Linked DNA regions of Homo sapiens. The protein of the gene in region 1 purifies or fractionates together with the protein of each later gene. This does not show direct contact. Each region holds a gene or a part of one and is shown in the gene's direction. Other genes may lie near its edges. The genes, in order: TSPAN5, GDPD1, ZDHHC9, ATP2B3, LCLAT1, ALG11 and DAGLB.

The links.
Region 2: the proteins of TSPAN5 (region 1) and GDPD1 purify together in Homo sapiens (affinity purification with mass spectrometry; 3 studies listed by BioGRID and IntAct, with this or other methods). This does not show direct contact.
Region 3: the proteins of TSPAN5 (region 1) and ZDHHC9 purify together in Homo sapiens (affinity purification with mass spectrometry; 3 studies listed by BioGRID and IntAct, with this or other methods). This does not show direct contact.
Region 4: the proteins of TSPAN5 (region 1) and ATP2B3 purify together in Homo sapiens (affinity purification with mass spectrometry; 3 studies listed by BioGRID and IntAct, with this or other methods). This does not show direct contact.
Region 5: the proteins of TSPAN5 (region 1) and LCLAT1 purify together in Homo sapiens (affinity purification with mass spectrometry; 3 studies listed by BioGRID and IntAct, with this or other methods). This does not show direct contact.
Region 6: the proteins of TSPAN5 (region 1) and ALG11 purify together in Homo sapiens (affinity purification with mass spectrometry; 3 studies listed by BioGRID and IntAct, with this or other methods). This does not show direct contact.
Region 7: the proteins of TSPAN5 (region 1) and DAGLB purify together in Homo sapiens (affinity purification with mass spectrometry; 3 studies listed by BioGRID and IntAct, with this or other methods). This does not show direct contact.

What each region holds. Positions count from the first base shown.
Region 1 is NC_000004.12:98,651,472-98,656,081, reverse strand, and holds part of TSPAN5 (tetraspanin-5), read left to right. Parts: intron 1-4,610. UniProt on the Homo sapiens protein: Part of TspanC8 subgroup, composed of 6 members that interact with the transmembrane metalloprotease ADAM10.
Region 2 is NC_000017.11:59,226,400-59,231,009, forward strand, and holds part of GDPD1 (lysophospholipase D GDPD1), read left to right. Parts: intron 1-4,610. UniProt on the Homo sapiens protein: Hydrolyzes lysoglycerophospholipids to produce lysophosphatidic acid (LPA) and the corresponding amines. Shows a preference for 1-O-alkyl-sn-glycero-3-phosphocholine (lyso-PAF), lysophosphatidylethanolamine (lyso-PE) and lysophosphatidylcholine (lyso-PC).
Region 3 is NC_000023.11:129,836,457-129,841,066, reverse strand, and holds part of ZDHHC9 (palmitoyltransferase ZDHHC9), read left to right. Parts: intron 1-4,610. UniProt on the Homo sapiens protein: Palmitoyltransferase that catalyzes the addition of palmitate onto various protein substrates, such as ADRB2, GSDMD, HRAS, NRAS and CGAS. The ZDHHC9-GOLGA7 complex is a palmitoyltransferase specific for HRAS and NRAS.
Region 4 is NC_000023.11:153,548,231-153,552,840, forward strand, and holds part of ATP2B3 (plasma membrane calcium-transporting ATPase 3), read left to right. Parts: intron 1-409; coding exon 410-624; intron 625-1,266; coding exon 1,267-1,509; intron 1,510-1,814; coding exon 1,815-2,056; intron 2,057-4,610. UniProt on the Homo sapiens protein: ATP-driven Ca(2+) ion pump involved in the maintenance of basal intracellular Ca(2+) levels at the presynaptic terminals. Uses ATP as an energy source to transport cytosolic Ca(2+) ions across the plasma membrane to the extracellular compartment.
Region 5 is NC_000002.12:30,526,867-30,531,476, forward strand, and holds part of LCLAT1 (lysocardiolipin acyltransferase 1), read left to right. Parts: intron 1-4,610. UniProt on the Homo sapiens protein: Exhibits acyl-CoA:lysocardiolipin acyltransferase (ALCAT) activity; catalyzes the reacylation of lyso-cardiolipin to cardiolipin (CL), a key step in CL remodeling.
Region 6 is NC_000013.11:52,031,383-52,034,844, forward strand, and holds the end of ALG11 (GDP-Man:Man(3)GlcNAc(2)-PP-Dol alpha-1,2-mannosyltransferase), read left to right. Parts: 3' UTR 1-2,218; downstream 2,219-3,462. UniProt on the Homo sapiens protein: GDP-Man:Man(3)GlcNAc(2)-PP-Dol alpha-1,2-mannosyltransferase that operates in the biosynthetic pathway of dolichol-linked oligosaccharides, the glycan precursors employed in protein asparagine (N)-glycosylation.
Region 7 is NC_000007.14:6,430,147-6,434,756, reverse strand, and holds part of DAGLB (diacylglycerol lipase-beta), read left to right. Parts: intron 1-1,797; coding exon 1,798-1,920; intron 1,921-4,149; coding exon 4,150-4,277; intron 4,278-4,610.

The sequences.
Region 1 (4,610 bases):
GGTGGGTGAGTATGGGAAGCCTGAAAGGAGACCTAGGCTATGGGACTAAACTAGCTGCCCCAGGCAGAATTGTTAAGTGAGTGCCTTCCTTATGAGGGCCCTTCACTTACCCTGCCTCTTGCCTTCCCTTCCTCTCCTCTCTGTGCCCAAAGCCTTCCTCTCAGATACTCCCTCATACCTTTCCTATCCTGCTCTCTGCCTCAAAATTACCCCATATTTAAATTTCCTGCTTTATTGTACCATGGTCTCTAGTGATGATCAACAGAAAGGCAACCATATGGTTTTGGTTAAAGTAATTCAGACTAAGATGTTAGTGACTGAAAAGCTGGGGTCAGTAGCTTGGCAGCTTGCTTCTGAAAAGTTACACACCTCTGCTCTCTACAGAGTCACCAACCTGTCTGTGATTGCCAAAAACAGCAGACTCGGTGCTACTCCCATACAATTATGAAGAAGAGATTGCCAACAGCATGGTTTCCTAATTTTCATTTTCACACTGAACTGCTAGACTACATTTGACATACACTGGTGACATTCAAAGGTATAGTTCTGGTAAAATAAAATTGAACATATGGTGGCACCAGCACTGAGAGCTTGGTTCTTTTCCTGATCAGCAGTTTGGCTCTTCATCAGTTAACTGCCTGGGCCTCAGTTTCTCAGCTGTTAAATTGAAGGAGGTGGATGAGTTATAACGTTCTTTCTAGTTCTTACACAGAATGAGTTTCTTGAGTTCCAATATGCTGGAGAAGAAAAATAGAAGAGTTTGGCCACTAATTTATAACAGAAGTAGTATATACCAGGACACGTGATAAATTATAGACATTTTCTGTTAGGGAGACTTGTCTGAAGACTAGTTTTATTACTTTCATTTCTTCCTCAAAGATCCTTTCATAAAAAACAAACAAACAAAAAACAAAAAACAAAAACAAAAAAAAACCAAGGCTGGGCGCGGTGGCTCACGCCTGCGATCCCAGCACTTTGGGAGGCTGAGGTGGACGGATCACAAGTTCAGGAAATCAAGACCATCCTGGCCAACATGGTGAAACTCTGTCCCTACTGAAATACAAAAAACTAGCCAGGTGTGTTGGCGGGTGCCTGTAGTCCCAGCTACTCGGGAGGCTGAGGCAGGGGAATCACTTGAACCCGGGAGGTGGAGATTGCAGTGAGGCAAGATCACACCACTGTACTCCAGCCTGGCAACAGAGCAAGACTCCGTCTCAAAAAAAACAAAACAAAGCAAAACAAAAAACCTTTCACTAATTTCTTCTTGGCTTGTTCAGTTCCTGGTATAGTGTCCGTGCTTCTCTCTCCCCACTGTGAATCTCAAATGTAGTCCTGTGAGTCATTAAATATATTTTTATTATTAGAATTACAGCTTCATGTATAAAATCTGAATCCTTTTATATAACAGTTGTAATGACATTCTGAGTAACAAAGTCAACATCTTGTACAGATTCCTTTCTCATTAGTTATCACAGGCTGGTGGGGGAAAACTTGTTTCCTCTGTTATATATTGGAACAATTCAAGACAGAAGGGAATTGATTTTATTGAGGGTGTCACCGTACTGGGACATTTCTCAGAAAACCCTGAGACTGCTTTGGGTTTGGGGGAGGGAGAAGAAAGAGGATTTTGTTTTAAAGTCATTTCTTTGGGGTACCGAACACCACATCCCATCACTCATCATTAATAGATGTTTTGCCCTTTTGGATTCTGGCTTTTAACTGTTTTGGATTCTGGATACTTAACTGTTCCCAGGCAAGTAAATTGATCTCAATATTCTGGTTATTTATTGCTACATAACCTCCAAGCTTAGTTGTTTAAAACACAGTTGTTTATTATTATAGTTCACAGTTCTGTGATTTGGCCAGGCTCATCTGGACAGTTCTCACTTGGGGTCTCATACAGTTGTGGTGAGATGTAGTTGGAGTTGGACTTACCGGAAGGCCCTCTGGGCAGGATGCCTGAGATGGTATACTCATATGACTGGAAGCTGATGCTTGCTGGGAGCTTAGCCAGAGTTGTCACTGGAGCACCTACCTACACGTGGCTTCTTCCTGTCTCTAAGTCTTAAAGAAGCTTCCAGCCAGTTAAGGTTCCACTTAGAACTGGCAGTGCCACTTTTATCTATTCCATTGGTTAGAGCACTCATGCAGACTGCTGAATTTCAAAGGGTGAAGAATTAGAAGCCACCTTTTGATGGAGAAGTGTCAAGGTCACATTGCAGAAAGTCATGTAGGTTGTGGCCATCTTTGAAAAATATAGTCTACTGTATTAAGGCACTGAGCCTTAATTTCTTGTTTATAAAGGAAAGATAACATTAATGGTGTTGTAGTTTTAAAGATTCAGTGAGATAATGTTTTATTCGGCATAATATCTCAATATTTAACAAATAGTGAATATCATTACTGTTGTTGTCTCCAGATTTTATACTGGTTCCATACAGGGCTATAGAACTTCTAGAATGCCTTAGTCTAGTACTTTGGCATCATTACTACTAGGTAATGATAATACCCTTAAGATCTGCCAAGAAGATGAGGCAAATGGATTCAATAGATTTTATAGTGACTTGTTAGGAAAGAACTCAATGGAAACGGTGGAATGATTTGGGAGAACCAAGTCATTTTTCTGTTTTCTTTGCTACAAAGGATTAGAAAAGCCTCAGTTACTTGAGGCCAACTTTCTCTTTTGATATGCTTTCAGATATTACCTTGTGTCTTTAAGTGCAAGTTTATCCAGGGTTGATGGCAGGATCTTGCCTCTAATTTGCTTCCACAGGGCTTAATTCAGAGAGGAGGGAGACTCAGGAAACCTTGGGGCGGTGGGGGAGGGGGGGCATCAAGTAGGAAGCTTTATCTTATGATTCACTATAAATTGCAAGATGTTCTGGAATGATGATACATCAGCAGTTTATAAGTCATAATTTTTGTTTTAATTTGCTAGACATCTGTTAGCTTCGATGGCAACCATATGGGAATCTAAATTGCGTTTTGAATTACAGGGAGATGGTAGGAAGAAAGCTAAATATGGTTATGAAAGTGTCATATGGGAAAAGTGTAAGAAAGGTATAAAGTGGGGAAAGTAATTGAATATAGGCTTGCTTAGTGTGGCCACTCCCTCTGTGGGGCAGTATGAAGGCGCAGAAGCATTCTCACTTGATATACTCCGCAGATTGAAATGAAGCCAAGTGGGGAGAAGTTGGAAAACCAAATCATGTTTCAACCACCATAAACTTGCCAAAATGTTGCACTCATTTAGATGGGTCACTTTGTTTTAATGTCCACAGTAATAGGTAGTCCCTGGCAAAAGGTGAAAGCAATCTGCATTTTTAACAGAACTTTTCACTAATGATGTTTTTCTTGTAAGCACCCCAAAGAGTCTTCCAAGAATATTATATCTTTGTGACAGATGAAGAAATTGGAGTACAGAGATGTGGAGTAACTTTTGAGGTGTTGAAGAGCATGTCAAGGTTCAGTTTCAGAGTGTTAAGTCTCTTCCGTAATGATAGCCCCAGCTTTTTGGGTGGAGACTTATTTTAGAAGATGCTTGTTATTCTAAAATAAAACATCAAGTAAGTCATTTACATCTGTTCATAATCGAAAAGTGATAAAGTTTTTGCATATGCCACAATTAACACCACCCACAAGCACAAAAAAGTTAGGATGAAAATGTTCTTCAAGAATATGGTGGAATAATTGTAGCCTATTGAAAATTCATAAATGAAAATTGGAGTATTGTAGACAGCATTCTTGAATCACATGTTTGTTTCTGTGTGTAATACTGATGACTGTCTTAAAATTTCTAACTTCCAAATAAATCATACTCCACTGGATTATAAGGGCTTCAAGTGTGGGGGCTGTCTCACTTTCATAAGCCCAGTGTCTTGCGCATTGTCTGAAACACAGTAGATGTTTTGATAAACGTTTGGGCCAGGCTTGGGGGCTTACACCTGTAATCCCAACACTTTAGGAGGCTGAGGCTGGAGGATGGCTTGTGCCCAAGAGTTTGAGACCAGCCTGGGTAACATAGTGAGACCCTATCTCTACAAAAAAAAATTAAAAATTAAAAATTAGCTGGGTGTGGTGATGCGTGCCTGTAGTCCCAGCCACTTGGGAGGCTGAGGTGGGAGGATCACTTGAGCCTGGGAGGTTGAGGCTGCAACTGCACTCCAGGGTGACAGAACAAGACCCTGTCTCAAAAAAAAAAAAAAAAAAAAAAAAAAGTATGTTGAAGGAAAGAATTACAAAATCATCAGAAAGTACGTAGGAATCATCTCCTCTAACTTCCTAGTCAGTGAAGCATTCTCCATTGTATCGTGCCTACCTTTCTAAGCATGGATCTGTTTTTGGACCACTTTAATTGTAGAGTTTCATCTGTTCAAACTAGATGTTATCTGTCTCCCCATCATTTCCATCCTCCTAATTTACTGTTCATTTAAAATTTTTATTTGGAAACATTAAACCAATAGGAAAATTGCAAGTAGTATAGAGAACCTGTTTTTATCCTGTTTGAGACAAAGTTGCCAGCATGTTGGCTATCACACAAACAGTTGAGTATGTATTTTCTGTAAACTGGACTATTCTCCTAGATCACCACAGTACAACCATGAAAGCCA
Region 2 (4,610 bases), on another chromosome or scaffold:
CAACTCTAGTAACCAAGTGAACCTAAAATCAAACTAGTAGTTTTTTGTTTTTACGTGGGTATCTTCCCTCTGCTAAAGTTATAAAATTTTAGCATATTAAAGCTAATGTATTTGTTTCTGCATATCTTGTATTTCTGTTGATTATTAATTAGGTCATCATAAAAATACAACCTAACAATATAAAAGAAGAAAAATTTAATACAAATATGTTCAGATGGTATTGTATATAAAACATTTTAATGCTAATACTTAAGTCCTTTAGGTACTTTGAGCAGTACCTTTTGTGTGTGTGTGTGATGGAGTTTTGATGTTGTTGCCCAGGCTGGAATGCAGTGGCGCGATCTCAGCTCACTGCAACTTCCGCCCCCTGGGTTCAATCAATTCTCTGTCTCAGCCTCCCGAGTAGTTGGAATTACAGGCATCTGCCACCATACCCAGCTAATTTTTTTTTTTGTATTTTTAGTAGAGACGGGGTTTCACCATGTTGGCCAGGCTGGTCTTGAACTCCTGACCTCAGGTGATCCACCTACCTCGGCCTCCCAATGTGTGGGGATTACAGGCATGAACCACCGCGCCCACCCTGAGCAGTACCTTTTTATTGAGAGTTTATTGAATTGTCTCTTTCTATTAAGAAGAAATTGACTGTTTTTCCAAAGTGTATGGAAAATTATTTCCAAAGTATTTTTCTGTATATTTCATCAATTATTTGGTAACACTGAAATGTTTTAGTTTTAAAACATTTTAAGCTGGTGATGGTGGCACACACCTGTAATCCCAGCACTTTGGGAGGCCGAGGATCACCTGAGGTCAGGAGTTTGAGACCAGCCTGGCCAACATGTTGAAACCCCGTCTCTACTAAAAATACAAAAATTATCTGGGTATAGTGGCATGTGCTTACAGTCCTAGCTACTCGGGAGGCTGAGGCAGGAGAATCACTTGAACCCAGGAGGTGGAGGTTGCAGTGAGCTGAGATTGCACCACTGCACTCCAGCCTGAGCGACGGAGCAAGATTCCAACTAAAAAAAAAAAAAATTTAAAACTTTTGGGTAGCATGCATAAAGTTAGTTAACTCTTTTTACATAGTATATAATATTAGACAATATTTTATAATTCAATATGTTCACATCAAAATCTGTGTCCTTTTTTAAAAATTACAATATTATTTATTATTGCAGTTAATGGACATTTACCAAGTACCTATTCTTTACCAGTTACTATGATAATGGCAATAGTAATAATAATTCTAATAATAGCAATAATCCTTTACTTTCATGGAATGTTTACTCTAGTATTTCATTGAATCTAATGCCATTGGTTATAAATACACAATTTTTACATACTGTTAAGAAAGAGACCTCTATAAAAGTTGATTTAAAATAAGAGAGAAAATCTTGCCAATTAAACTGTTCATTATACAGCATTAATTGTAAAATACATCTTAACTTCAGAGATGTTAAGAAATGAAAAGTTATCATTTTAGAATTGAATGGCTGGGCACAGTGGCTTACGCCTGTAATCACAGCACTTTGGGAGGCCGAGGTGGGAGGATTGCTTGAGCTCAGGAGTTTGAGACCAGCCTGGCCTACACAGTGAAACCCCGTCTCTACTAAAAATACAAAAGAATTAGCCTGGTGTGGTGGCGCACGCCTGTAGTTTCAGCTACTCAGGAGGCTGAGGCAGGAGAATTGCTTGAACCCAGGAGGTGGAGGTTGCAGTGAGCCGAGATTGTGCCACTGCACTTCAGCCTGGGTGACAAAGAAAGACTCCATCTAAAAAAAAAAAAAAAAAAAAAAATTGATAAAATACAGCAGTTTAAATATTAACTCATTTGATTATACCAATTCTATGAAAGTTTCTTAGGTAGCTTTTCTAAGGTCACACAATTATTAAACAGATTGGAGACCAAGCATCCTAAAACTCCAGAGTCTCACCCTTAACCACTAGACTATACTGCCTTCAGTCAAGGTGATTAAAACACAGTCACTTCTTTTAAGCAATTCATGGGAATGGGAGGAGAGAAACAGGTAAATAATTTATGCCATAATATGATAAATGCCTTAGTAGAGCTATGCATAAGAGACTATGGGGATACAGAGGAGAGACTGTTTAACTCTGTCTGAGGAGACTTATGTGTACCAAATCCTCTTCTGTCTTTCCTTTGACAAATAAGTGGATATTATAGCTTAAAAATCATGGTTAGGCCAGCCAGGCACAGTGGCTCATGCCTGTAATCCCAGCACTGTGAAGCTGAGGCAGGAGGATTGCTTGAGTCTAGGAGTTTGAGACCAGCCTGGGCAACATAGTAAGACCCTGTCTCTAAAAAAAAAAAAAATTAGCTGAGCATGGTGGCATGTGCCTGTAGTCCTAGCTACTTGGGAGGCTGAGACTGGAAGATTGCTTGAGCTAGGAGTTTGAGGCTGCAGTGAGCTCCGACCATGCCACTGCACTCCAGCCTGGGCAACAGAGTGAGACCCTGTCTCAGAAAAAAAAAAAAAATCAGTTTAGGTTCTGTTTTAACCCTCCTGTGTTACTGTGGCTGTGTTTTGATTTTTGATTTCTACTGTTGCAGCTAAAAAAAAATTCAAAATACAGGTTAAGCTTCCCTAATCTGAAAACCTGAAATGCTCCAAAATCTGAAACTTTTTGAGCACAGACATAACTCCACAAGTAGAAAATTCCTAGTAAAAAATAACATGAGGAAAAAAATTTTTTTCCTCAAATTGTTATTATTATTATTATTATTATTATTATTATTATTATTATTATTATTTTGAGACAGAGTCTCGCTCTGTCGCCCAGGCTGGAGTGCAGTGGTGCAATCTCAGCTCACTGCAAACTCTACCTCCTGGGTTCAAGTGATTCTCCTGCCTCAGCCTCCGAGTAGCTGGGATTACAGATGCCCGTCACCATGCCTGGCTAAATTTTTTTTTTTTTTTGACACAGAAGTGCCTGTAAACTGGGATTACAGGCACCTGCCACCATACCCAGCTAATTTTTGTATTTTTAGTAGAGATGGGGTTTCGCCATGTTGGCCAGGCTGGTCTCGAACTCCTGACCTCAGGTGATCTGCCCGCCTCGGCCTCCCAAAGTGCTGGAATTACAGGCGTGAGCCACTGCGCCTGGCCTAATTTTTGTATTTTTAGTAGAGATGGGGGTTTCACCATGTTGGCTAGGTGGGTCTCGAACTCCTGGACCTCAGGTTATCCGCCCGCCTCGGCCTCCCAAAGTGCTGGGATTACAGGCATGAGCCACCACGCCCAGCCATAAATTTTTTAAAAAGAAAAATATATATATAACGAATTCCACACCTGACCTCATGTGACAGGTTGCAGTCAAAACAAAAGCAAACAACACACGGCTTATTCAGCGTCCCCAAGGGAAAAAAGACTCTTCCAGCTCCCTTCAGTTACAATATATCTTTTCTGAGTATGTCCAGGTTTCCTTATGCAAGCGTGCCCACAAAGGGTAATAAAATGGCACATGTTCAGACTGATCACACCAACAGCAGATTCCCCATGATGCCCTACATGGTGCCAAGACCTATATGCATTATTTATTGTGTGTTTTTGTTTGCTTGCTTGCTTGCTTATTCTCTGCTCTTTGGTATAAAGATGTGAAAATATCAAAAAGGACCACAGATACCCCTATGGGTTATAGTGATGAGAAAAATAGGTAACATTTATGTTTATCTATAGCACAGAAAGTCAAGGTGTTATAGAAACTGAACACTGGTGTAAGTGTGAAATACCTTACAGAGGATATGGTATTAGAATGACCACTATATATGACCTGAAGAAAAAGAAGGATAAACTGTTGAAGTTTTATATATATCAGAAGTAGTATATATAAAGTGGAAGTGATGAACAGAAGTTAATTAAAAATAGAAAAACTGCATAAAGCTAAAATGAAGATCTCAAGCGATGAAGTTAAAATGAAAGGAACTGTGAATATTGAACAGGCCAGTTGTAGAATTTTTTTTTTTTTTTTTTTTTTTTTTTTTTAGATGGAGTTTTGCTCTTGTTGCCCAGGCTGGAGTGCAATGGCGCGATCTTGGCTCACTGCAACCTCCGCCTCCCGGGTTCAAGCGATTCTCCTGCCTCAGCCTCTCGAGTAGCTGGGATTACAGGCATGCGCCACCATGCCCGGCTAATTTTGTATTTTTATTAGAGCTGGGGTTCCTCCATGTTCGTCAGGCTGGTCTTGAACTCCCGACCTCAGGTGATCCGCCTGCCTCAGCCTCCCAAAGTGCTGGCATTACAGGTGTGAGCCACCATGCCCGGCCCAGTTGCAGAAATTTAAGAGAAGACATGGCATTACATTTTTAAAGATTAAAGGTGATTAGCATCTGCTGGTCACGAAGCAGCAAAGAAATACATTGACAAGTTTGCCAGGGTCATTGCTGTTGAAAATCTGACACAAGAACAAGTCTATAATCCTGATGAAACAACACTCTTTTGGCATTATTGCCCCAGAAAGACACTGACTGCAGCTGATGAGATGGAAATTAAGGATGCCAATGACAGAATAACTGTGTTAGGATATGCTGATGTAGCAGGCATGCATAAGTGTAAACTTGCTGTGGTAGGCAAAAGCTTCCTTCCTCACTGTCT
Region 3 (4,610 bases), on another chromosome or scaffold:
GGCGTGTCTCCTGGGTGTGCTGAGAATGCTCTACACTCTAGGGATGGGAGCATTGCTAATTGTTTTGGGATTACTGTGAGGAGGCCTTTGAGAGCCAAGAGGTGTGTGTGTGGACTGTAAGCCACACCTGAGGTGAGCGTGCTATGGTGTATGTACATGGGTGACCTGGAAATGGAGGGCTTATGCTGGGGTGTGTCCATGGGAGGTAGGAGGGGGCACCTTGGCCAGCCTAGTGGGGAAGTAAAATGAGCTCTGGTCCCTTGGGGCTCATTTTTGTCCTTCTGTGAGGGCTTCAGGCTTTCCCAGTGCACCCAGAGTGATTTTTGGGCTGCTTTGCCAGACTTTTGGGTGGTTGCAGCTGGCTTGAGTAACAGCAGGGGGAGGGAGATCCAGTTTATAACGGGGCTGGGAAAGTAAGGTCAGAGGAACTCTTTGTTAAAGGTCCTTTTGCTGCTGCCGCCGCTACTGCTGACTTTGTGAAGTGTTTAGTGAAGTCAGGCAGGTTGCTGAAGGCTTCTTATTTGCTTTCCAGTTTGAGTTTCCTGAATGAGTGTGTGTGTGTGCATATGTGCACGCACGTGCTTGTGTGTGGTACCAGTGAGCATGTGTAGTCAGGCAGGCATAAGCCCCTAGCATTAAAAATTGTTTTTCCTTCTCCTCACCCTTCTCTCCAAGTATTCCTTGCCTCATTCCTGTCCTGCTTCTTCTTGGAAGTGCAAAGCTGACATCTGTTCTTTATCATTCTTCCTCTCTTTTTCTCTTTTTGTCCCCACCCCCACCTCCAGGTTAAATTTTTATTACAACTATTCCAAACAGAGATGAGCCTTGTTCCCAGGCTTTGAGTTAGTTGGTAGTTCTGGGCCCAGGAAACCTCTGGTTTGACTGGCCAGGGGTACTTGAAATTTGGAGGTATTGCCATTTGTCCCCTTTTGTATCTGGGAGCCAGCAGAAGAATCTGACTGGAATCTGTTCCACTGAGGCCCCTGCAGGCCTCTGAAGAAAACCGCTGGTGGGATGAAGCTTCTAATTAGCCAAGTTACCATTTGACAGAGGCAGGTTGAGTTTTCTACCATGATGACTTCCCCCCGCCCCAGGTTATTTCTTGCATTTTGAAGGGTGAGGTTATTTGTAAAACTTACTTGAGTACCAGCTGTCTGTGTGAAAGACTAAATATTTTTGAAGATAGGGCTGGAGGAGGGAGTAGTGGGAAGAAGAGGGGAGAAGGAAGTAAATGTGTTAGCAGAGGAGTGGAGGGGGGAGGTGGAAATGTGACCACAGAGGAGAGGACCCTGGTGATGAATACTTTGTACATGTGTGGATGTGCGTGCTTGTGTATGTGTGTGTGTGTCTGTCATATACAGACACATAGACACTTTAGGTGGTGGCTGCCTTGTGCCTAGCCAGTGACAGGTTGTACAAGGTACACCAGCATGCCTCTGAGGAATGAAATCTCCTTCTGGTCGGCCTTTTTCTTTGGCATCTATAATTTCCTGTCCACCACATAGTGGGGGCAGGGTTTGGGGAGCAGAATGTGGGCTGCTTTGTTAGTATTAGGACTTAGCGCAGTGGCTCATGCCTGTAATCCCAGCACTTGGGGAGGCCGAGGCAGGCAGATCACTTGAGGTCAGGAGTTCGAGACCAGCCTGGCCAACATGGTAAAACCCCCGTCTCTACTAAAAATACAAAAATTAGCCCCGTGTGGCTGTTGTGCGCCTGTAGTCCCAGCTACTCGGAAGGCTGAGGCAGGAGAATCCCTTGCACCTGGGAGGCGGAGGTTGCAGTGAGCTGAGATCTTAGCCTGGATGACAGAGTGAGACTCTGTCTTAAAAAAAAAAAAAAAAAAGAACTTAGTGAGGCCTCAGGAAATCAGTTGATCTAGCCCCCTGCCTTCAGGCAGGTGAGGGTGTCTGAATAGACAAATGGTGATCTATTTTCATTCTTACATTGTCTAGGAGTAGAGACTCCACATCCTCTGGCTGCTGTATTTTTACCTTGTGGGAAGATAGTCCAAATCTTGAGGCACATCTGGAGCTGCATTTTAGTAGCAGGGTCCTGCTTGCAGCAGGTGCTTAGGAACAAGTGTGAGTTGATTTATAGCTGCCTGCAGCACAGCTCTGGGCCAGCCAGATGGCTTGAGAAGTCTGGTCAGGCATGTGGGTGCCCCTTAATGAAAAACGCATAATGTTAGCAGTGCTGGCAGATGTCCTTTTATTTTTGGATTATGCCTTTACATATCTTCTAGAAGACTTTTCAAATGAGTGACCTGTAATTTTCAGTGGACACATAGTAGATTGAATACATAAAACAAAAAAAGTTGTCCATCCTGGGGCCAGTTAGCTCTGTATTGTTAGAGTGTTTCTTTTTTTTTTTAATTATTTTTTATTTTTTATTTATTTTTTGAGACAGGGCCTTGCCCCATCACCCAGGCTGGAGTGCAGTGGCATGATCTCTGCTTTTGCAACCTCTGCCTCCCGGGTTCAAGCACTTCTCCTGCCTCAGCCTCCCGAGTAGCTGGGATTACAGACACCTGCCAAATACAAATAATTTTTGTATTTTCAGTAGAGACAGGGTTTCACCATGTTGGCCAGGCTTGTCTCGAACTCCTGACCTCAAGTTATCCACCTGCCTCAGCCTCCCCAAGTGCTGGGATTACAGGCATGAGCCACTGCGCCCGGCCTGTTAGAGGTGTTTCTGAAGAAGCCGGGGGGTCTCTCTCGGGCCGCTGTCACCGAGTAGAAATTTGGCCAAATATTCACTAAGCCTCTTGCAACTCCAAGAACCTGAAATTCTGTATAACTCTGTGTCTGTCTGGAAGACTCAAATACACACAAAAGGAGATTATAGATTACCAGTAGGTTGCTATATTTAAATATAATTGTATTCATGGTAAACGTATTTAAGTTTAAAAGCAGAGTGAAAAATGGTATAATGCTTAAAGAAAAAGGATTTTCTAATTAATTCTTAGGGTGAGGTATTTAAGAAATGTGAGTGTGTATTGCTAGTTTCAGCTTTGAGCACATGAACAATTTTCAGTTCTTTCTGCTTAAGCTCTATCCAGCTTGTGCGATGAACACATAGCTACCAGCTTGGCCTGAAGTGTTAGGACACTGTAGCAGAATGCCACTGACAACCTAGGAGACATCCAGCTACTGAAAGGCTATCGTGGTATTCAGTCAAATTCAACTTCCTGATAAAGTGTGATCCTGGAGAAAGGAACAAGTGCACTGTCTCCTGGAATTGGCTTCCAGCTTTCTCTTTTAGCTTTCTGACCTGGCCACTAGTGGGATCAAGGTCCTCAGACTTCTCTTGTGGCAAGAATGACTATGAGACTCTTGACCCCTGAAGCAGAAGCAGTTTGCTGCTATAATCAGTGCTTATGGTCTCACTGTGTCCTCTGTATATGAAGGAAATCTTATCAAGGCACTGTCAGACCAGGTTCTGTCAGGTTGGTCCCCATTAGAGCTTTTGATGTATATATTGGCAGAAGAGTCATTGAATTGGATGAACTGAAAACAGCTTTGTAACACTGCTTAGTAATCAATAGTAATCAATACAAACAATACTTTTCTAGCCTATCCAAATTCTACCCCTCTTTCAAATTCTTTCTTGAGTCTTTCTTCATGAAAACTTTCCAGTAATTTCTGCATTCATTGGGCTAATTGTACACACCGCTCATTCAACAGATAATCACATGACATTTCTTATAGTTTGGAGCTATATGGTGATTACACTTCTCACTGTTGTTGTCCCCCGCAGCTAGTCTCTTTCAAGGTCAGAGACTATGTTCAATGGCTGTGTAGCCCCCACAGTGCTCTCTACCATGCCTTACATAGAGTAGATGGCCAATAAGTGTTGCTGAATTAAAACATTCTAGATGTACTTAAAATTTAACAATCTTGACCCACAGAATCATAGGATGGTAGATCTGGAAAGGGCTTTGGAGACTATCTCCCTCCTTGTGTGGGGTGAGGAAACCAGGCCCACAGAAGTGAGTTTCCTTTATCAAGATGAGTTGACCAGCCAACGTCTCTATACTGACTCAGGGCTTTTTCTTCTAATTTCGACATTTTATCTCATTGTTCATTGTTACCCTTTGGCTATGGAATCCTGAAGATATTCAAACACACATGCTTTAGTAAAGTGTACATAGTACCAAATACTAGGCCAGCATATTCCAGATTCTTGCGAGCTAGTGTGTGTGTTACCCAGTGGCATCTAGGCTCTTTGGGTCTCCCAAGCTTATGCTCCTAGAAAATGAAGGCATCTTTGCAGAGAACTGATGGTATTGCAGCATGGCATTTCTGGTAGCCTTGCAGGAACAGGGAAGCCTATCAGGAGCTTTGTGAGTTAACAAGGGATCATCACTGCTGTGGCCACTCCTGGTCCCTGCTGCCAAGATGAGGATGGCTTGGAGAAAAATCAAGCAATGTGTGCTCTGTACATTGTTACTTAGTGACTTATCCTGATGAAAGGGGCAGTGTGGGCTGGGCGCAGTGGCTCATGCCTGTAATCCCAGCACTTTGGGATGCTGAGGCAGGTGGATCACTTGAGGTCAGGAGTTCGAGACCAGCCGGGCCAACATGGTGAAACCCTGTCTCTACTAAAAGTAC
Region 4 (4,610 bases), on another chromosome or scaffold:
CTGAGCCACTGCCCATGAGGTGCCCCTACCCAAGGCTCCAGGCTCTGCCCCTGGCACCCTCAAAAGGCAGCTGGGGGCATGCAGGGCTGGTACCCCAACTTCTGGGGTGCAGTGGGGGATTGACTCTTGCTAGTCCTCCCCAGCGGTGCTTCTCCTGCCATCAGACCACAAAGTCCACTCCCCAACCCCAGCAGCACTCCAGAAGAGGCCACACAGAGCCCCCTTGCAAACAGGCCCCAGCTCACCTGCTGAGCCAAACCTGGGCTGTTTATCCTGAAACGCAAGGCAAATCTACAAGGCCTTCACAAATGCCTCCGAGACCGTGTCCATACCTCTTCTTCCCTCTTCCTGTCCCCCTCCTTCCCTCACCCGTGGCAACCCCTTTCGTCTCCTCCCCGCTCTGTGGCAGGGCTGGTGATGTCTGCCATCACCGTCATCATCCTGGTCCTCTACTTTGTGATTGAGACGTTTGTCGTGGAAGGCCGGACATGGCTGGCAGAGTGCACGCCGGTCTATGTACAATACTTCGTGAAGTTCTTCATCATTGGTGTCACTGTGCTGGTCGTGGCTGTCCCAGAGGGCCTGCCTCTTGCTGTCACCATCTCCTTAGCTTACTCTGTCAAGGTAATCATAAAACTTACAGTTGATACTGTTTACAGACTCGGAAACTGGGGTAAGAAGTCATTGGGCGCCTTGGTGGCAGTATAAACTGGGGACGTTTGGGATAGCTCAAGGGAGGAGAGGAGGTGCCGAGCAGGGACCCAGGGGGCAGCTTTGCTGATCTGTCAGCTCAGGTCCCTCGGCATGAGATGGGCCAGAAAGCAGGCAGGCGGTGAGATACCCAGGGGTTCAGCATCTGCACAATGTGGGCAGTAGGACGGAGGGGCTGGGAGGCAGCGGGGAAGCGGAGAATCAGCAGAGGGCCCGGGACACTGGGAGGCAGTGGGAGGAGGTGGGGGGAGCCAGGTGTGGGGTGGTGGGGTGGTGGGGTGGTGGGGTGGGAGAGCTGCAGGGCTGGTGGGTAACTGAGAGGGGGCTCGGGCAGGGGAGGTCCCGGGTGCGCATCCCGCCCCCACCATTGGATGAGGTTGCTGATGCCTTACAGCCTCGCTATTGGCTCAGGGCTGACCAGGTGCCCAGTGGGCTTAGTGCCACACGTGGAGCTAGCTGAGCAGAACAGAGTCACGCGATGTTTGTGTTGACATCTCTCACTCCTCCACCCCAACAAGCACCTGGGCCAAATGCCCACACCCTCGCCCTTTGCAGAAAATGATGAAAGACAACAACCTGGTGCGCCACCTGGATGCCTGCGAGACCATGGGCAACGCCACAGCCATCTGCTCCGACAAGACGGGCACGCTCACCACCAACCGTATGACCGTGGTCCAGTCCTACCTAGGAGACACCCACTACAAAGAGATTCCGGCCCCCAGCGCCCTGACCCCTAAGATCCTCGACCTCCTGGTCCATGCCATCTCCATCAACAGTGCCTATACCACCAAAATACTAGTGAGCTGGGGCAGGAGCGGGCGGGCAGGGCCGGGGGCAGGAGCAGGGGAGGGTCCTGGCCAGGGTGCCAGGTGAGCTGTTGCAAGGTGCTCATTAGGCCCCCCCTTGAGAACTTTTGCCCATCCCTGGCCTCACAGGTGGCTCTGGCTGGGAAACTGCCTGTAGCTAAGGCCGACCTTCCTCTGCTCCCTGCCGCCCACACCCTAACAATGTGGTGACCACGAGGGGGCAGAGCTGGGGCTCCAGGGGCAGCATGGAGGGTGGTCTCAGGCCCCCAGTGCCTGCTAGCCCTCGTCATCTTGCAGCCTCCTGAGAAGGAAGGCGCCCTCCCACGCCAGGTGGGCAATAAGACGGAGTGCGCCCTGCTGGGCTTCGTCTTGGACCTGAAGCGGGACTTCCAGCCCGTGCGCGAGCAGATCCCGGAAGACAAGCTTTACAAAGTGTACACCTTCAACTCGGTCCGCAAGTCCATGAGCACAGTCATCCGCATGCCCGACGGTGGCTTCCGCCTCTTCAGCAAGGGGGCCTCAGAGATCCTCTTGAAAAAGTGAGTGAGCAGCAGGGAGGTGCCGGGGTACGCACGGAGTTTCTGATTCTATTGTCGTGGTAAAAGAGGCCGAACGTAAAATTCACCATTTCAACCACTTTACAGTGTACAGTTGAATGGCATTAAGCACGTTCACAATATCATGCAACCGTCACCACTACCCAGTTCCAAAACACCTCCATCAACCCGGAAAGAAACCCCAGGCCCATGAGCAGCCCTCCCCACGCCCCTCCCCAGCCTCATGTGCTTCCTGTCTGTATGGATTTGCCTGTCTGGACATTTCCTATCAAGGGACTCATACACTGTGTGGCCTTTTGTGTCTGGCTTCTTTCCTTAGTGTAAAGTTTTTCCGTTTCCCTCAGATATTAGACCTTCCTTTCTTTTTTTGTTTTGTTTTGTTTTTTCCCTCAAGCCATCCTCCTACGTCAGTGTCCCCCGTAGCTGGGATTACATGTGCATGCCACCACGCCCAGCGAATTTTCAAATTTTTTGTAGAGCTGGGGTCTCCTCATGTTGCCCAGGGTGGTCTTGAAGTCTTGGGCTCAAGCGATCCACCCACCCGGCCTCCCTAAGTGCTAGGATTACAGGAATGAGCCACTGCCACCAGCCCGAACTTCCATTCTTTCTAAGGCTGAGTAATATCCATTGTATGCTAAAGAGCATTGTGTTGGTCCATCCATCCCTTCATCTGTCTACCAGCACGTCTACCAGCACGTGAGTCGTTTCCACCTTTTGGCTGTCACGAGTCACGCTGCTGTGAATATTCACGTACAAGTTTTTGTTTGAACCCATGTTTTCAATTCTTTTGCGTGGACATCTAGGAGAGGAATGGCTGGGTCGTGGTGTCCACGAAACTGTTTTCCACAGGGGCAGCACCGTTTCACATTCCCACCAGCGACATAGGAGGGTTCCACCTTCTCCCCATCTTCAACAGCACTTATTTTCTGGTGTGACAATGCTGATGGGGGCCATCCTTGTGGGTGTGAGGCAATATCTCCTGGTGGTTTTGATCTGTGTTTCCTTGATGACTAACAACGCTGAGCCTCTTTTGCTGTGCTGACTGGCCATTTGCCTGTCTTCCTTGGGGAAATGTCTGTCCTAGCCCTTTGCTCATTGCTGAGTTGGGTTGTTTGTCTTTTTATTGTTGGGCTGTAACATTTTTTCTGTATTCTGGATCCTAGATCCTTATCAGCTATGCGATTTCTACACATTCTGTCCCATTCTGTGGCCTGTCTTCACTCTCTTGATAGTGTCCTTAGGTGCACAAATGTTTTAAATCGTGATGACGTCCAGTTGATCTATTTTCTTGTTGTTGCTTAGAGATGATGAAAATTTTCTTAGAGATGATGAAAATTTTCTGGAATTGGAGACTGGTGATGGTCGTGCAGCTCTGTGACTATACTAAAAACCATCGAATTATCTACTTTAAATGGGTGGACTGTGTGGTGCGTGAATTATATCCCAATAAAGCTATTAGAACAAAGTAAGGGAGAGTGCACAGCGTCACCTCCAAATGCCCTGGCTTCCCCACTCCCACTCAGCCTTCCCGGACTCCACACCCTTGGCCTTGGCGTCTCTGTCCACAAGTCACCTCGCTCCTCATGACTGCCGTCCCAGGGCCCTCAGGGCAAGGTCCTCTGCAGGACGCCCAGGGCTCCCCAAAGGCCCAGGCCCACGCTCCTTCCTGTGTTCTGCGGACTGGACCACCAAGTGCACCCTGCCTGGCCGCCCCACCCACAGCGCTCTCCCAGAACTCTGCCAGGTGCAGCGCTCACTGCCAGGGCCAGGACCACCTCCTCCCTGGAGCCATCCCTGCTGGTGTGGGGGCCTCAGCCCTCTTTCTGTGCTTCTTTTTTGGTGGGCACTGAGGGACACTGAGGCACTGCGGACAAAAGGCCCAGCCCAGCTTCACTCCCCCTTACTCCCATGCCTCAGTTTCCCTGGTGGCATGGAGATCACAGAATACTTATCTCTGGGGAGGGGTGTGAGGGTTCCGTGGGTGAATCCACATCCATAGGAGGCTCTCCGTCCACACAGCTTCTGTTATGATCATTTCCTTCGTCACCAGCCTCCCATGCAGTGGCAGCACCTGGCACTCACAGCCCCACTGGCTTCTTCCACCATGCCCGCCTCTGTGACCCTCGGCTCCTTTGCTCCCTCCTCTCCCCACCTGAATCCTCCCAAGTCCTGTCCCTTTTGAGAAGCTCCTGGAGTCATGAGCGCTCTACTGAGGCTGTGGCTGCCTGGACGTGGTTATAGCGATTGTCCACAGACTTCAGTTTTTGCCCAGGTTCCACCCGCTTGCCCTATGAAGTCTGTGGTGGAGCTGCCATGAGCCACATGCTCCTGCCTCCCTCCCGGTCTCTCAGCCTGCAGCAGTGCATGAGCGTCCTGGTGCCCTCAAGCAACAGAAATGGATTCTCCCCCAGTTCTGGAGGCCGGAAGTCCAAAAGCAGGGCGTGGGCAGGGCCGAAGCGCCTCCAAAGCATCTCAGAGAGGATGCATCCTGCATCCTCCAGCTTCTGGTGGTGGCTGCCAGTCCTCGCGTTCCTCA
Region 5 (4,610 bases), on another chromosome or scaffold:
TTTAGAGGACAGAAGTTGACTTCTAAGACTATTAATTTTTAGAGTTACATTTTTAAATTAGCTTTAAAGATATGAAGCCCAGTGTTTCATTGCAACCCTAAACATACCATTTGCCATAAAATACTCATTTTTTGTTGCTGCTTAACCACTATCACTCTCTATTTACAAGGTGGGTATTTCTCTATATACATATATTAAGTAAAATAAGAATACTGTTCAGTTTATGTAATATTAATCATCACAAGTAGATACTTCTAAAACGTCATCTACAAACTGTATGTTAAGTAATTTTGCTGTCATCATAAAATCAGAGACATTTCCTATTGAAACATTTGACTGTTTTCATGTCATTTATGTAACTATTTTTAGTGTTTGTTTCATCATCTGTAAAATAAAGAAATTGGAGTAAATGATCTTTGAGATCTATTCTGGATTCAGAATTGTATATCTGATTGTAAAGCAAACATTCAGAGGTAAAAGATTTTTTGTAACAGTCATGTATTGTTACTGTACTCCATTTTCTAAATGTCATCAGTTTTCTATAGTATATAATCCTTTAATTATGAACCACACATTTTTGTTGAATCTTTCTGCCAAAACCTTGAGAGTTCTGAGAATTGGTAAAAATTACTACAGTTGTAATGCTTTACAGTGTCCAGTCACTCTAATTTTTGGAGAGCGAGCATAAGCAGAGTGCTTATTTTCACAGACATTGCAGACAGATATTTGGTTTCACTATTGGCCTTCCCACTTTCTAGTCATTTGAACTTGGCTAAGCTCCTTAGCCTCATTGTAAGCTTTTGTTTCTTCATCTCTATAAAAAGGAGTCTTAATACTACCTACTTACATCAGAGAGTCATTGTAATGACTAAATGAGGTAATAAATATATAGCCTTTTTAGTATAATGCTTGCCATTTGGTAAGTACCCGGTAAATATTTGGTATTATATTAATTTTAGTTTTAGTTTTAGTTTTGCTTTTATATTAATTTTAGGCTAAACTGGTGTTTTGGAGAAAATTCAAAATATAGTGGCTCCAATACAGTAGAACTATATTGACTTACAGGTCCAGGCTGGCAAGGTCCCTACGGTCCCTGATGTCATCAAAGGGTTCAGATGTCTTCTATCCTGTTAATCCACCTAGCTTGGCCTCCAGCCTGGTATAATGTCCTCTTGTATTTGGTCAAGACTGGGTCACTGCCACTTCTTTGCCCCACTCTGGAGGAAGTCCAGAGCAAATGCTTTCTTTCTATACCAGTGACTCACGTGTGTAGTACATAGCAAGTTGCACATATCACTTTTGCTTACTCTATTGGTAAGAGCAGCTAAAAGCTGTAATAGAATCTGGGAAATGTCTTTTTTTTCTGGGCAGCCATGTGCACAGTTAAAATTCTTAATCTGGAAGAAATGCTGGTATTTATAGGACAAGTTACCAAACAAATTCTGCAATAGCTATTTCTGCTATTATTACTGCTAGTAGCATTACTATTACTGCAGAATTACATTATACACCTACAGTATTTGTACAGTTTCAATTACATGCACTAAGGTAAGGGAAGAGTGGGCAGAGAAGAGAATGAATTTTTTTCTGCTTCATGTGAGATGAAATAGGAAATATGAGTGGTTCTCTGCTGAGTGTGATTCTTGTGTTTAAAGATAGATATTTTTAAACAATATACAAACCAATCACTTTGTCTGATGGTCAGGTAGGGTAATATCAATATAGTACAATTTTGGGAGAAGATTGGCTGAGCTGGACTTACTGATAGTGTGATCTTTTGAGATGCACCATCCTATGAGATTTTCAAAGATAATTTCACCTATTCCTAACTTTTGTCTTATTAGCTGTTTGGACAGTTTAACACATGGGTAAGATTTAACTACCACAGTACTAGTAAAAAATTAGTATACATTTGGAAAACTGCTGTCACTCAGCTGTTTAGTTTACTAGTTACAGCATATCAGACAGAGAAAGTTTTTTTAGTTAAGAAATGTATAGATGTTGAATTCCTTATAGCTAGGTTACAGAAAAATTGATATTCTAGTTTTGAGATAGTGAACATCTCTGTTGAAGGAAACAGAGAAGAACCATCAAGGGTGTCTTTTATCACCTTTTATCTCATACTCGTACAAGGAGCTAAAGGAGTTTTTAAGCAATAATAAAATATATTCTTTTTAAATTCAGAGTGAATTTAATCTAAAAGCTTTTCTTCTATCCCTTATTGATGTACTTTATTTTAAGCAATCCCAAACAGTTAAAAATAATTTTCCACTAAAAATAAATTAGGATAAATGCACTTAAACTAATTATTGCTTCACAAAAATAGTCACAAAATGATCTTCTCTTTCATTAAGTTTCTCTTGTGGATTAAAATGATTTTGTTGGCAAGATTTTTCTTGTCTTACTATTTTTAAGGAGCACATTTCTGTGCTAAAAGAGGCATAGCAGTGAAATGTTTTAGAATCTTAGATGAGACTTAGAGGTCACTTTGTCTAACCTAACTCTGTGGGCAAGAATCCGTTCTAGAACTATCTGCAGGGTGACCATTCAGTCTTTCTTTGAATGTTTCTATAATTCGGAGTGCATGCCTTTGTTCCTTTTATTTTTGGACCATTCTGTTCAACATAATGAATATTGTAAGGGTCAAACTCAGCATGTGCTCAGAGCAGTTTTTGCTTCTCAAAATTCTAACTAACCGACAGTCTGATTACTACCTGGGATTATGAAAATTACTGGAGTTCTGTCCTTTCACCATAAATCATGCCTTAGGAATTTAGAGGTCATTTTCTAACTGTCTACCCAGGGCACAAGTTTCTTCCACAGCCTTCTGATACCATTCCAGTCCTAGCACAAAACAGGTGTTGAATAAACATAGATTGCTGAATGTGATTTTTGTCTACACTGTTGCTCTTAACAAAGTGGGTGCTCAGTGTTTTGAAGAATGAGTTGGGATTGCAAAGCCTCAAGTAGCTAGGGATTTGGAGAACCAGACCTAATCTGAGCCTGAAAAGCAAAAGCAGACATGGAGATGAGTTGTTATTACCTCAGACTAAGTAAAGATCCATCAGAATGATAAATGAGAGTGAGAGCAGCGGGCATGATGGTAAAACTTTCTCTGTGATCTTGAGAGGAACCACTCTCATCTTTGTGTTTTTATACACAATGGAACACTTGGACATAGTAAGTAGTGGTATATAAAAGATCCTTGGAAAATGCTTCCATATTTCTGTTAAATAATACACAGAGAAATCTTTGACCAATTAGGTAAAAATTATCAGAATTGTTACTCTTCAATATAAGAAACAATGCATTATAAAATTTTGTTAGATTTATTACTGTTGACACTATTATCTCCTATACTAGCAATAAAATAAACATGAGAAATGTGAGAATAGTGTCTTTTTTCCCAGTCTTTTAGTCTGGATTAATTGAATTCTGGAGTTCTGTATAGATATTACAGCTTTATTTCTGTGTAGTATATTTGTTTTTCTGCCTTTGCAGGAGCTGTAAATAAGGTTGACTGGATATGTCTCATCTGGTATTACAACCAATTAATGTGGACTTGAGATCTTGGCTGCCCAAAGGTTATTTATAACTTTCAGGCATATTCTGGTAGAATGCTGGATGTCAAGGGAGAGGATGTCATGTTATATGAGATGTTCCTGGACACATGGTCTTGATTGTTGTTGTTGTTGCTTTTTTGGAGACTACATTCTCTTGCCCAGCTGGAGTGTAGTGGTGCAGTCAGATCTCACTGTAACCTGAAATTCCTGGACTCGAGTAATCCTTCTGCCTCAGCCTCCTGCGTAGCTAAGGCTCTGGGCATGTTCCACAATGCCTGGCCTTTAAAAATTTTTTGTAGAGCTGGAGTCTTGCTATGTTGCCTAGGCTAGTTTCAAACTCCTGGCTTCAAGCGATCTTCCTGCCTTAGCCTCCCAAAGTGCTGGGATTACATATGTGAGCCACCACACCCATCCCAGTCTTGGATTTTTTATGTTATTTTTCATAATGAAAAGCAAAGGATTGTTTGGGATCTATAGGTATCATATATTAGAGATTGCATATATAGGTTTAGATTTGAGGTTTGGAATTTATAGGCTTAAGATTTTTAACTCTTGGCCGGGCACGGTGGCTCATGCCTGTAATCCCAGCACTTTTGGAGGCCAAGGCGGGCGAGTCGCAAGTTCAGGAGTTCAAGACCAGCCTGGCCAACGTGGTGAAATCCTGTCTCTACTGAAAATACAAAATATTAGCTGGGTGTGGTGGCGGGCACCTGTAATTCCAGCTACTCGGGAGGCTGAGGCAGGAGAATCACTTGAACCCGGGAGGCAGAGGTTGCAGTGAGCCGAGATCGCGCCACTACACTCCAGCCTGGGCGACAGAGTGAGACTCCGTCTCAAAAGAAAAAAAAGAAAAAGGGACATTTTTTGCTGTGGATCCACACCTGTAGGACTCTGCCATGATCCTTTTTACCAGGAGGTCTTCCATGTAGGTATTTCACTTTCAAGGGACTTTTTGGAGTAGGGGTTATAATTAGTTGAGCGGTTATGGACCCTTTTGAAAATTTGATGAAAACTGCAAGCATTTTACCTAGCAAAGTATGTGTACAC
Region 6 (3,462 bases), on another chromosome or scaffold:
TAAACAGACTTGTTTAATCGTGTTCTCAAAGCATACAGTCAAGAGGTGGGACTGACTGATGCTTTATAGGTGTGTGTAGGGTGGTAGAGGCCAAGGTGCTGCCAGCAATCCTTTCCATACTAGGTACTGGTGAAAATTGTTTTTGTTTATGCTGTCAGCACATTTGTGTGGGTCTCTCATTGTCCCTTAACAGTGCCGCATCTCAGCCTGGAAGTCAGCTTTAAGTCATTCAAGAGAACCTCAGGCTGTTTTTCTGACAGTGATGATATGATATACAGATACATCCACAGGGTATCTATTACCAGCATAATGCATTGTAAGATGGCAAGGTGGCATTTTGAAAGAGCGCTGGGCAAGCAGTTAGCACATCTGGGCCTACCTTCAGCTTCTTCATTTACAAACTTCTGACCTTTTGACACTAAAGCTGCTCCTTTATCTTTCTGAGTCTCAGATTCTTCATCTGTAATCTGGAGTTGTTAATTCCAGTCCTTACTACCTTTTAGAGTTGGAATGAGATGGAAAGTAGATGAAACTACTTTGAAAATTACGACAGTTAAGGGCTGGGTGCGGTGTCTCACACCTGTAATCCCAGCACTTTGGGAGGCCGAGATGGGTGGATCATGAGGTCAGCAGTTGAGACCAGCCTGAACAACATGGTGAAACCCTGTCTGTACTAAAAATACAAAAAAATTAGCTGGGCCTGGTGGCAGGCACCTGTAATCCCAGCTACTTGGGAGACTGAGGCAGGAGAATTGCTTGAAACTGGAAGGCAGAGGTTGCAGTGAGCCAAGATTGTGCCACTGCACTCTAGCCTGGGCAATAAGCAAAACTCCATCTCAAAAAAGAAAAAAAGGAAAAAGAAAATTATGAGAGTTACTTAAAGGTAACATCACATACTAAATGTCTTCTATAATCCTATATTTATTAATGCATTACAACTCTGTAGATTGTTAGTTACTAGGCCAGTAGCTAGGAATTGGTATAAATTTAATGCACCTTCTATCCTGAATAACTAGCATGGAAAAGTGAATATATGTGTGAGCAGATATGGCTATAAAGACCTATAGCTTTTGCACTTTATGCATATATAATCAATCCTTTCTAGTTCAGTGAATTGACCCCATCCACAGGCTGATTCATCTTTGTGTTAAGGGGCAAATGAAACGGTATATTATTTCTTTGCAGTCTCCTCTCAGTCATTCATCAATGTGGCCAGCTTATCTACTCCCAATTATGTTGTTGATACATCTCCAAGCCATCTGTCATCAGATCAAAAAGCAGCAAACAGAGGGTCAGTCACAGGATGTTCTGACACACCATTGTAACTTTTTGTTAGAGATGATCCCATTTAGAAAAAGACTGGTAGAAATTGGAGTGAAAGGAACCCTACAGATTAGCCCAGTTCTCTCTTATTTTCAGCTTTACAGACAAGAACAATTTAAATCTAAAGAATTTAGTAGATTCCTTCAGTGTCACAAAGCTGTTTCATGAAAGAATCAAGATTATAACCTGGATATTCTGACTCCTGGCCCAGTGCTTTTTCTTACTTTGTAGCTACACTTTGAAGTAAGATTCAAACTGTTATCCACTCAATTGCCTTATTCCTGAGGATGTAGTGAAGGAAGAAAAAGTTTTCTGGAATTCCGTAAATTATATTTTAAGCTTATTTCTTCAAAATTATTTTCATATATCACAGATATATCATTGGAAGATATAATTTGCATATATGTTCATTATCAGTGTTCCTAATTTGGTATTACATGTATTCTATTTTTTTCTGAATGATAGCATGAAAAGTGTCAAAGTGGTTTGTCCGCTAGCGTCTGTCTGCAGAACTTTCAGGATGACTATTAATTCCTCTCAGATGTCATTTTTGAGTGGTCCAAGCCTGCTGTTTTGAACCCACAGCAGTGGAGATTTGTATTCTTATTTACAGTTGTGTACTATAAAGTGTGTGTTACATAGGTTTTGTGTAATAATTATTTGTAAATATTATTTAGATTTGTATTTAGACATGATTTATATCTAATATAGATACAAAGTCTGTGTCTAAATATTATTTAAAGAAGTGATTTTTCATTCTCTTGGATTCTTTCCAGTGTGGTGCCTTTTATATGCCTCACATAGTCTCCTTGTTCTCCTACTAATATTCCCAAGCTCCATATGCCAATTAAAGAAGAAACAAAAATAAAAGTTTGTCTTGCTTGTGAAACATTAAGAAGAGGCTGTCAGGTTTAATAAACTTTTTAATGAATATTTCAGACATAACAAAAAACTGCAGAGCTTCGTACACTTGATTTAAATAATTCTTGAGGGATTTTATAAGGTCATCTTATAGACAAAATTAAGAGACACCAGTGTGGTTATCAATGCTTTCAGAATACTTGTGTTTATGTAAATATACCCCAGAGTCCAAAACTCTGATATATTCATATATATTCACAATGAGAGGATGTCTGTGCCAAATCTGTCAATCAGTACAATAGAAAAGTTAATTATATAACTACAACACGAAACACAAATTTTTAGAAGCAAATTATGTCCTGTAATTTACCCCCCTCCCCGCTGCTCCTCTGCTAACTCATTTTCCTCTTTTCCCACTCTAAATGTAAGGCAACCCTTGGCTTTGGAGAAGCATCTGTTCCAATATTCTGGTGCTATGTGCTCAGTTGTACTATATGCAAATGTTACTAGACACAGAGGAGGTCAAAGTGTTGATACACTTATTGCTACCATTTACAGAATGATCAATTTGATAGCTATCATACATGGCTAGCAAGACACTGATTTTTCTAATAAAAAAATTTTTAATGCATACAGGTCTGGTGAACAGTTTCAATTTAACGGATGAGGCCAAGGCTAAAGCCAGAGTAAAGTAATCAGAGCCATGCCTCAGGAACACGATTTAGCTAATAGTGTGTGTAAAATGGGTAAGGTCTAGAATTAGGGACTAAAATCAGCTGAAAGTGTTGCAGATATGTATACTTATCACAGTGAATACTTCCAGTTTACAGCAAAGAATTCAAAATTGTTGAGTAAAGCTTGGTGACTATTACCTAAAATAGACTAGACTTTAGCCAAGCATCTTTTATCATGGGAACAAACCCGATAACCTGACATGCTTTTTTTTTTTTTTTTTTTTTTTGAGACAGGGTCTTTCTTACTCTGTCACTCAAGGTGGAGTGCAGTGATGTGATCACGGATTATGGCTCACTGTAGCCTCAACCTCCCAGGCTGAAACTAAAGTGATCCTCCCGCCTCAGCCTCCTGAAGAGCTGGGACCAGAGGTGCACACCAACACACCAGCTAATTCTTTTTTTTTTTTTTTTTTTTCTGAGGGGTGGATAGAGATGGGTGTTTCCCTATGTTGCCCAGGCTGGTCTCAAACTCCTGGGCTCAAGCGATCCTCCTGCCTCAGCCTCTCAAAGTGTTGGGATTACAGGCATGCGCCACCACACCTGG
Region 7 (4,610 bases), on another chromosome or scaffold:
CCGAGGGGATCTGGTTTGGTCTGTTTCTTCTGTTTCAGTAAATGCTTCTGATGGAGCCGGTCCCTCTGTTCCCATAAAACCGCGTTTGAGAACCTGGTGTCTTTGGGTGTGTGGGGGGTGGCCGGAGACCCTCTGTCTGTGATGAGCCCTCCAGGGAGCAGTTAACTGCAAGAGCCACACCTTCTCAGACCCTGTGTCCCAATAGGACATGTCTTCGTATTGACACCCACTCACTACCCTGTCAAAATGCTGGATTAGCCTGTAAGGAACCACATAACGGACGCTGTACCCTTTGAGAATAATTTGCAGCTGCTGTTGAGCAGATACCAAGCACAGGCAGTGGCATGAATCGAGGTTGGAATCAGATAGTGAGTGACTTCTTACCACTTTGTATCATGATGGAAATGATCGACGATGCTACTTTTGGAAGACAGTTTGAATAGATGATTGCAGCACAGAAGGGAGCGTCATTCTAGAGCGAGTTCTTCCGCAATTTGAAAATGCTTGTTTTTTTTTTTTCACATGCAGCGTGTCATCTTTTTATATGACATTCTCTGCTAAATGCTGTTAAATTCCATACTGAGATGAGGTAAGGGAGGAAGAGTTCTCTGCTTATCCTGCACACCTGCCAGTCTCTCTTCCCACCTCTGTGCTATCCGACTTGGCACCATTCAGGGCTGGTCCTGGAGCCTGACACCAAGTCATAGCAGCAGCCTCCGTAGAGGGAAGAGGGAAGCGTGTCCCCTCAGTAACTTAAAGAAGTGCTTAAACCTAGTCTTAAGATATCTGGAAGAGGGAAGAAGAGAAGCTGGTTATTTCTAGAGGATGTCGTAATCTACATCACAGGCAGAACTGATGGCTCAGTGGCTGAGTGGCCAGTATATTGTCTTTTTTTTTTTTTTTTTGAGACAAGGTCTCGTTTTGTCACCCGGGCTGGAGTGCAGTGGCGCCATCTTGGCACAACCTCCACCTCCTGTGTTCGAGAGATTCTCCTGCCTCAGCGTACTGAGTAGCTAGAGTACTACAATAGCTGGGATGACAGGCACCTGCCACCACGCCCAGCTAATTTTTGTATTTATAGTAGAGACAGGGTTTCACCATGTTGGCCAGGCTGGTCTCGAACTTCTGACCTCAGGTGATCCGCCCACCTCGGCCTCCCAAAGTGCTGGGATTACAGGCGTGAGTCATCGCACCTGGCAGTATATTGTCCATTCTTACGGGCTACAAGTACCCGGAGGTGATTGAGAATTCCTAATTCCTCCATTTCCTGGAGAAAAAGGACATGTCAGGCCTAAGAAGACTCACTCTCTGTTGCTTTCCCAGCTTGGGGTCCTTTATGAGGCTTGCCATACCCTGTGAGTATGAGTTTAGTCTCATAAATCTCTACCATCCACTGTGTTTCAACAAAACCTTCCCAGCATCTTGAGAAATGAGAGTATAAACGTGGGCTAAAATGGTGCATTGCTACAAAAACGGACAATTTATCCATTGATTTCTCCACTTTACAAAATATTTGAAGTAGATTAAAAATAGTTGAGTCACATGAAGTGAAATTTTAAGACAGACGAATAGCATTTTTATATTCTCCAGTGGACTTGTCTGAGGGCAGGATGTGAAAACATATTCAGGTCACATAGAGAAGCACTCCTGCCAGGAGCAGTCTTTTTAACATACCTCTGTGTCTAGAAATGTCTGTGTGTGCGTGAATGCCTATCAACTATAGAAGACTGGATTTTAGGGAACCCGGGGGTGGTGCCTGCTGGGTTTTATGACAGGCCATTGTGGTTTCCCACCCAGGACACAGATCTGGTGCCCAGCGACATTGCGGCGGGCCTCGCCCTGCTTCATCAGCAACAGGACAATATCAGGAACAACCAAGAGCCTGCCCAGGTGGTCTGCCATGCCCCAGGGAGCTCCCAGGTGAGCCTGGCTTCATGGAGTGTCCAGTTCTGACACTTACACCTTTTGGTGGGTCTTCAGAATCATACAGCTAACCTATAGCAATTTCTTCCTCCCTTCCTTCATTCCCCTTTCCCCTCCCTCCCCTCCCCCTCCTCCCCTTCCCTCCCCTCTCCCACCTTTTTTTTTTTTTTTTTTAAGACGGAGTCTCGCTCTGTCGCCCAGGCTGGAGTGCAGTGGCACAATCGCGGCTTACTGCAAGTTCTGCCTCCCAGGTTCACACCATTCTCCTGCCCCAGCCTCCTGAGTAGCTGGGACTACAGGCGCCTGCCACCACACCTGGCTAATTTTTTTTCTTATTTTTAGTAGAGACGGGGTTTCACCGTGTTAGCCAGGATGGTCTCCATCTCTTCACCTCATGATCTGCCCACCTCAGCCTCCCAAAGTGCTGGGATTACAGGCGTGAGCCACCGTGCCCAGCCTCCCCTCCCCTTTTTTTCTTTTTCTTTTTATGAGATGGAGTTTTGCTCTTGTTGCTCGGGCTGGAGTGCAATGACACAATTGGCTCACCACAACTTCCACCTCCCGGGTGATTCTCCTGCCTCAGCCTCCTGAGTAGCTGGGATTACAGGCGCATACCATCACACTCAGCTAATTTTTTGTATTTTTAGTAGAGATGGGGTTTTGCCATGTTGGCCAGGCTGGTCTCAAACTCATGACCTCAGGTAATCTGCCTGCCTCGGCTTCCCAGAGTGCTGGGATTACAGGCATGAGCCACCACACCGGGCCTATTTTTCATTTTTTTAACTTTTATTTTAGGTTCAGGGGTACATGAGCAGGGTTGTTACACCGGTAAACTCATGTCACGAAGGTTTGTTGTACAGATTATTTTGTCACCCAGGTACTAAGCCTAGGACCCTACAGCAGTTTCATTAGCAGCAGGGTTGGAATCTGATTGGCGGCTTCCACTGGTTGTATTGCATCACCTGTCAGGTGAGGCATCTTCGTTATCAACTGGAGTTCAGGTAGTGGGAACCCATTCCTGGCCACTTTATCATCCATCATATCTTTATTTTTTATTTTATTTTTTGAGACAGAGTCTCTGTCACCCAGGCTGGAGTGCAATGGCATGATCTTGGCTCACTGCACCCTCTGTCTCCTGACTTCAAGCAATTCTCCTGCCTCAGCCTCCACAGTAGCTGGGACTACAGGCGTGCACCACCATGCCCAGCTAATTTTTGTATTTTTAGCAGAGACGGGGTTTCACCGTGTTGGCCAGGCTGTTCTCAAACTCTTAGCCTCAAGTGATTTGCCGGCCTTGGCCCCCCAAAGTGCTGGGATTACAGGCGTGAGCCACTGCATCCGGCCACATTTATCATATCTTTGAAGGCTTATGTTTTAGGAAATTTGCTGTTCAATTCTATGCATTAGAACAATTCCTCCTGGGATGGGGACTGCGATTCTCCCTGGGTGTGTTTGCTTTCTTCTCTGGGGCTGGGGGCAGAAGCAGTTCAGCTTTGCTTGGTGATAATTTTCCTGCCACAGGTTGTTATGTTTTTGAGAAAGAAAATTGCACGTAGACGGTATGTATCTTCGCTGCTCCGGGTTAAGCCACTCAGTTCTTGACAGCTCGTGTGTGGCAGTGGCATGGAAATGTACTAGTTTCAGGCATCTAGATAGGAAGCGCCGGCTCATTTCAGCAAAAACAGCAGAGAAGTCATTGGAGTGTTTTTTACTGTTAACTTCCCCGTGCTTGCTGTGTTCCTATAAAATGAGGAGTCAGGCTGGGCGTGGTGGCTCACGCCTGGCTTCCCAGCACTTTGGGAGGCCAAGGCAGGTTGATCACCTGAGGTCGGGAGTTCGAGACCAGCCTGGCCAACATGGTGAAACCCCGTCTCTACTAAAAATACAAAAATTAGCCGGGTGTGGTGGCGGGTGCCTGTAGTCTCAACGACTTGAGAGGCTGAGGCAGGGGAATTGCTTGAACCTGGGAGGCGGAGGTAGCAGTGAGCTGACATTGTGCCACTGCACTCCAGCCTGGTGACAGAGCGAGACTCTAAAAAAAAAAAAAAATGAGGAGTCCATGTCATCCTTATTGAAGGAGCAGTTTTGCCTGTGGGCGTCTGAGAGTTCTATTCAACGAAGGAGCAGGAAGAGTCAGGAATGAGTTCAGGTTTCAGGTCTCAGTGTGTTGATCCTCTGTGTCAGGAGTTCCCTTAATAAACAGTAGTTTTTGTCCTTCTCTTGTAGGAAGCTGATCTGGATGCAGAATTAGAAAACTGCCATCATTACATGCAGTTTGCAGCAGCGGCCTATGGGTGGCCCCTCTACATCTACAGAAACCCCCTCACGGGGCTGTGCAGGATTGGTGGTGACTGGTGGGTTGGCACAGTCTGAGCCTCCATAGCCATATTTCCCTTAAAAAAAAAAGCTATTTTGAGATATTTCAAAAATTTGAAAGAACAGTGCAAAGAACTCCCATGAATCCTTTACCTAGAGTCACCAGCTGTGACTCATCTGGTCACATGCGCTGTATCTCTCTCTCTCTCTCTCTCCCTCCCTCCCTCCCCCCTGCATATATATATATATATATATATATATATATATGCACATGTATTTTTTTTCCCCGAACCATTTTATTTTTCTCTTTTTGAGACAGAGTTTCACCCTTGCTGCCCAGGCTGGAGTGCAGTGGCGTGATCTCAGCTCAC